Regions from separate parts of the Homo sapiens genome. Here region 1 is linked to region 2. Evidence: fine-mapped expression QTL. A gene starts in region 2. The other region holds a variant in brackets. All regions are shown on one strand. Distances are from middle to middle. Region 1 overlaps DFFA (DNA fragmentation factor subunit alpha). Region 2 holds the start of CENPS (centromere protein S).

What was found. PIP is the estimated chance that this variant, and not a neighbour inherited with it, causes the effect.
Region 1: its variant is the best candidate, but not a certain one, in a credible set for the expression of CENPS in nucleus accumbens (GTEx, PIP 0.62).

Annotation. Positions count from the first base shown.
Region 1 is chr1:10,464,408-10,467,313 of GRCh38, reverse strand. DFFA (DNA fragmentation factor subunit alpha) reads left to right here. Exons shown (of 6, transcript NM_004401.3): 3 at 1-124. Among named protein-coding and RNA genes, the nearest start is that of DFFA, 6.7 kb to the left of the region's middle. The variant A/G (reference allele first, on the strand shown) is at 1,511.
Region 2 is chr1:10,428,721-10,431,553 of GRCh38, reverse strand. It overlaps CENPS (centromere protein S), which reads right to left and starts at 1,121. Exons shown (of 5, transcript NM_199294.3): 1 at 986-1,121. The coding sequence starts at 1,036. CENPS-CORT (CENPS-CORT readthrough) reads right to left here and starts at 1,121. Exons shown (of 4, transcript NM_199006.3): 1 at 986-1,121. The coding sequence starts at 1,036. RefSeq lists an enhancer at 474-523 and a silencer at 774-1,023.

The sequences.
Region 1 (2,906 bases), 36 kb before region 2:
TTCCCAAGAGTCCTTTGATGTAGATGAAACAGACAGCGGGGCAGGGTTGAAGTGGAAGAATGTGGCCAGGCAGCTGAAAGAAGATCTGTCCAGCATCATCCTCCTATCAGAGGAGGACCTCCAGGTAAAGCCTCCTCCACAACCTGCAACAATGTTCATCCAGCCTCTGCCCCCCGCCCCAGCACCTTCTTAGCTTCCATACTTGCCATAGCAATTTCTTTGTTTTAATCTTAATTTTTAAATAATTCTTAAATTACAACTAAGATTTTTCATCTTCTCATTCTCACCTAGAGTAATTTTTCAACCCTCGTCACGAAGCAGAATTACCTGTGGATTTTTTTTTTTTTTTTTTTTTTTTTTTGAGACACAGTCTTACTCTGTCGCCCAGGCTGGAGTGCAGTGGTGCAATCTCAGCTCACTGCAGTCTCCACCTCCCGGGTTCAAGCAATTCTCCTGTCTCAGCGTCCCAGGTAGCTGGAATTACAGGTGCACACCAACACGCCTGGCTAATTTTGGTATTTTTAGTAGAGACAGCGTTTCATCATGTTGGCCAGGCTGCTCCTGAGTTCAAGTGATCCACCTGCCTCAGCCTCCCAAAGTGCTGAGATTATAGGCGTGAGCCACCGTGCCCGGCCAGATTTTTTTTTTAATACAAATGCCTGGGATCCACCCTAAACCTAGTTAGGTGGACGCTGGGGTCAGGGATGCCCTGCTAGAGAATGTAGCGTTGGAGTAGATGGCTTCACATCCCAGCGCTGTCACCACGACTTTGAGCCAGTAGCTTAGCTTCTCTCCTTGTGTTTTCTCTCTAGTAAGATTGGGATAGGCCAGGTGCAGTGGCTCACGCCTGTAATCTCAGCACTTTGGGAGGCCGAGGCGGGCAGATCACGAGGTCAGGAGATCGAGACCATCCTGGCTAACATGGTAAAACCCCATCTCTACTAAAAATACAAAAAATTAGCCGGGCCTGGTGGTGTGCACCTGTACCTGTAGTCCCAGCTACTCGGGATGCTGAGGCAGAAGAATCGCCTGAACCCAGGAGGTGGAGCTTGCAGTGAGCCGAGATCGCACCACTGCACTCCAGCCTGGGTGACAGAGAGAGACTCCATCTCAAAAAGAAAAAAAAGATTGGGATAAAAACAGTATGTTTTCATTCAAAGAAAATTTCTCTTTGAGACAGGGTCTTGCTTTGTCACCCAGTGCAGTGGCATGATCATAGCTCACTGCATCCTCGACTTCCTGGGCTCAAGCCATCCTCCCACCTCAACCTCTCAGGTAGCTGAGACTGTAGGCTTGCACCACCACACTGCGCTATTTTTTCTTTTTTTTTTTTTTTAATTTTTGTAGGCCAGGTGCAGTGGCTTATACCTGTAATCCTAGCATTTTGGGAGGCCAAGGTGAGCAGATTGCCTGAGTTCAGGAGTTTGATGTGGTAAAACCCTATCTCTACAAAAATTAGCTAGGTGTGGTGGCGTGTGCCTGTAGTTCCAGCTACTCAGGAAACTGAGGC[A/G]GAAGGATCACTTGAGCCCAGGTGGTCAAGGCTTCAGTGAGCCATGACTATACCACACCAACCTGGGCAACAAAGCAAGACCCTGTCTCAAAAATAAATAAATAAATAAATAAAGCCAGGCGTGGTGGCTCACACCTATAATCCTAGAACTTTGGGAGGCCGGGGCGGGCAGATCACGATGTCAAGAGATCAAGACCATCCTGGCAAACATGGTGAAACCCCGTCTTTACTAAAAATACAGCCGGGCACGGTGGCTTAACGCCTGTAATCCCAGCACTTTGGGAGGCTGAGGAGGGTGGATCACAAGGTCAAGAGTTCAAGACCAGCTTGGCCAAGATGGTGAAATCCCGTCTCTACTAAAAATATAAAAATTAGCCAGGCGTGGCGGCAAGCACCTGTAATCCCAGCTACTCAGGAGGCTGAGGCAGGAGAATCACTTGACCTGGGAGGGGGAGGTAGCAGTGAGCAGAGATCACGCCACTGCATTTTAGCCTGGGAGACAGAGCAAGACTCTGTCTCAAAAAACAAAAAAATTACAAAAATTAGCTGGGCGTGATGGCGTGTGCCTGTAGTCCCAGCTACTCAGGATGCTGAGGCAGGAGAATAGCTTGAACCCAGGAGGCGGAGGTTGCGGTGAGCCGAGATCACGTCATTGCACTCCAACCTGGTGACAGAGCAAGACTCAGTCTCAAAAAAAATAATTAATTAATGTTTTATAGAGAGGAGGTCTTCACAGGTTGCCTAGGCTGGTCTTGAACTCCTGGGCTCAGGCAGTCCTCCCACCCTGGCCTCCCAAAGTGCTGGGATTATTGATATGAGCCTCTGTGCTTGACCCAAAACATATTTATTGAGCCCCATCCTGTGCCTGTCATGGTTCTATGCACTGGGTGTGCAGTGGCGAACAAGCCAGACACAGTCTCTGCTCTAACGGTACTTGTATTCTGATGAAGGGAGGCAGAAAGCAACAGGAAAGCATATCAGACAGTGGTATGCAGAGAGTGATGGAGGCTACTCTAGACTGGAACACGGAGGAAGGCCTCTTTGAGGAAATGATTTCTTGGTGTTTTTTGTTTTGGTTTGGTTTGGTTTGAGACAGGGTCTAGCTCTGTCACCCAGGCTGGAGTGCAGTAGTGCAATCTCAGCTCACTGCACCATCTGCCTGCTGGGCTCAAGCGATCCTCCCACCTCAGCCTTCCAAGTAGCTGGGACCACAGGCGTACTCCACCATGCCTGGTGAATTTTTATATTTTTGGTAAAGACAGGGTTTCACCATGTTGCCCAGGCTGGTCTTAAACTCCTGAGCTCAAGCAGTCCTCCTACCTCAGCCTCCCAGAGTGCTGGGATTATAGGTGTAAGCCACTACACCCGACCCTTCTTCCCAATTTTAACACTAAAA
Region 2 (2,833 bases):
TGTGTACTAAAGAATTAAAATGTAAAGGCGAAGTGTCAAAATATCTGCAATTAATTCTCCAATCGCGGGGCTGGGAGGGAAGCATGGGAGCAAACAGAGCAAAATGCTAACTAGTGGTGAATCAAGGTGACGGGCATCTGGGCATTCTGTACCGTGTTCTTGCAACTTTTCTGAAGGTTTGAACTTCTCAAAAGACAAGGGGCAGGGTAGACAGCTGCTGCAGTGTAACTTTGTAGAGAGGAAACTCCCGCGTCTGGAGCTCATTCCCGCGTTTCTTCAGTCCGTCCTCTTTAAGGTCGCCACTCCGGGTCTTGCTTTTAAGCCTCTTCACGGCAACGTTCTCAGCCTCTGACGCCCCATATGCCCGGCGCTGATGAAAGGAACGAATGGGATGCCCGCAGCTACCCTGACAAGTGATTATTCTTATGACGATTTTGCAGAGAAGAAAATTGCGTCTGGGCCGAGTCGATACGATCACAAGTTGGCGGGGCAGAGATTCGAACCCACATCTAAGGACGAGCTCTGGGCCTGACTGGTCCGCACCGCGTCCCTGCATCAGTAACGAGGGGTCGACGCCTCCAGGGCCAGCGTTCCAGAGCTCCGGCCCGAACCGCCCACCGCGTACGGGCGTCACCTGGAATGTCTAATGCCGACGTTGTACCCTCACGAAAACCCCATCTGAGAAGGGGAAACCGAGGATTCATCGCAAGGCCAGAAGGTGGCCTCTCGCCGCCGGACCCCGGCGCCCGCACGCTCCCCTAGAACCGCTTCCTCCCCAGCCAGCGCAGGCCAGGGTCCAGCCGCGTTGCCGCGGAAACCGCCTCCCAGCACCACCCGCGGCAGTTAAGCCAACGCATGCGCAGCCGCGGGGGGCGCCCGGGGGCGGGGTGCCGATGAGAAGCCGCCGGGGGCTGCCGGGTACTTTTCTGTCCAGAAACTCGACGCCGTCCTGCCCCAGCCCAGCCCGACCCCCGTTTTCCTGTACCTGTTGGTAAGAGAATCGCTGCTGCTCCTCGGTCTCCGCCTCCTCCTCCATCACTGCGGGCCGACCCTGGGCAAACGCAGGAGGGCCGAGAAGGGGCGGTGGTGCGCGGCCAGGTCGGATTTTCCCGCCGCGGCGCGAGCGACGGGCCGCGCGGGCGGACAAAGTACGCAGCTCCGCCCTGCCTCGCGCGCCCCCTGGCGGCGCTCCGTTGAGGGGATTCCGCCGTCGGCCTCCAGCCAGCCCCCTGCTCAGCTTGCTCTGCGGAGGTGGCCGGGCGACGCGGGGACATGACCACCGAGGTCACTGCTGCACCCCAGAGCCTGATTCAGCGCCTGGCACAACGCTGAGCACCACTCTCCGCGAAACACGTGTGCGCATAGGTGCAAAGCGTGTTCCAGTCGGGTGTAGAGGATGCGTAGCCCACGATTTACAGATCATGTAACGCAGTACACATTATCAGGAGCTCCATGCACCTGTACCTCAGGTGTATCTTGCAAAATCGACCATCAACTTTATCATTCTATCACCAACAATAGCGTCACAAAGACTACAATGAGTGAACGACCCGTGACCTCATTCAGCGAGTGGAACAGGAACTGCGTTGTTGCCATTGGCAGGAGTATAGTTCTGACACAAGTGTTACTGTTTTTCCTTTATGTTAACGATGAAGTGAGACCATCAAACCCAATTTTGGTTTGTTTTTATTGTAGTTTTTTGAGAGGCAGGGTCTCACTCTGCCGCCCAGGCTGGAGTGCAGTGGCACCACCAAGACTCACTGTAACCTCCACCTCCTGGGCTCAGGTGATCCTCCCACTTCAGCCTCCCAAGTAGCTGGGACCACAAGCCTGCATCAGCGCACCTGGCTAATTTTTATTTTTTGTAGAGACCAGGTCTCACTATGTTGCCCAGGCTGGTATCAAACTCCTGGCTTCAAACAATCATCCCACCTCAGCCTCCCAAAGTGCTGGAATTACAGGTGTGAGCCACCATGCCCTGCCTGTATTTCTAGGTTTTTGTTTTATTATTTTTTATTGCCTATATTTCTGTATTCTGCATTTGTCACAAGCAGGTGCTACTTTCAGAACGAAGGAAAGCACATAAAGCCACTCCTTGTCTTCCTTTCCCAGGGACGTCCCTCAAGTTCCCTAAGCTTGCCAGGGGCTGAAACCCAGATCAAAGCTTTTTGGAGGAATCAGCCTTCTGAGGACTTTCCTCTGCATCTGCTCAGTGGGTGGCATCTGGAAATGACAGGCACTTCTCGCCTCTGTCCACTGCTCTCTGTGGGCATCCCAGTCTACCTGGACAGTCCTCCTGCCCAAGCAGGGCAAGCCTCTGACGGATTCCCCTAATGGGCAGCATGGGGCTGGGCAGGGCAGGCCATCCAGAGTGAGACCAAGCCTGCAGCAGGAGAGAAGGCCGGTCGCTGGTTGGTGAGCAGCCCCATTTAGAGCACACTGTGGCTGCAAAGCCCAGCTCCCTCCCTTGAGCCTGGTGACCCCAAGCAAGTCACAGGACGTGGCCAAGCTTCATGTCCCTTATTTATCAACTGGGGACAGTAGTTCCAACTTCACAGGGCAGGTGTCAGGTTTTAAACAATTGCCTCACATAAGAGCTAAAGAAATTGTAACAATTCGTCCCAGGAAGTTCCTGTGCTTTGTACCTGTGTGTTCCCTCATTTTAAAGCAGTTGCTTCCCAGGATTAAAGAACAGTATTCCAGTGACATGTGTGCAATACAGAGGCACTTAAGAGCCTCAGAGGCTAGGAGCAGTGGCTCATACCTGTAATTCCTGCACTTTGGGAGGCCGAGGCAGGTAGATCACTTGAGGTGAGGAGTTCAAGACCAGCCT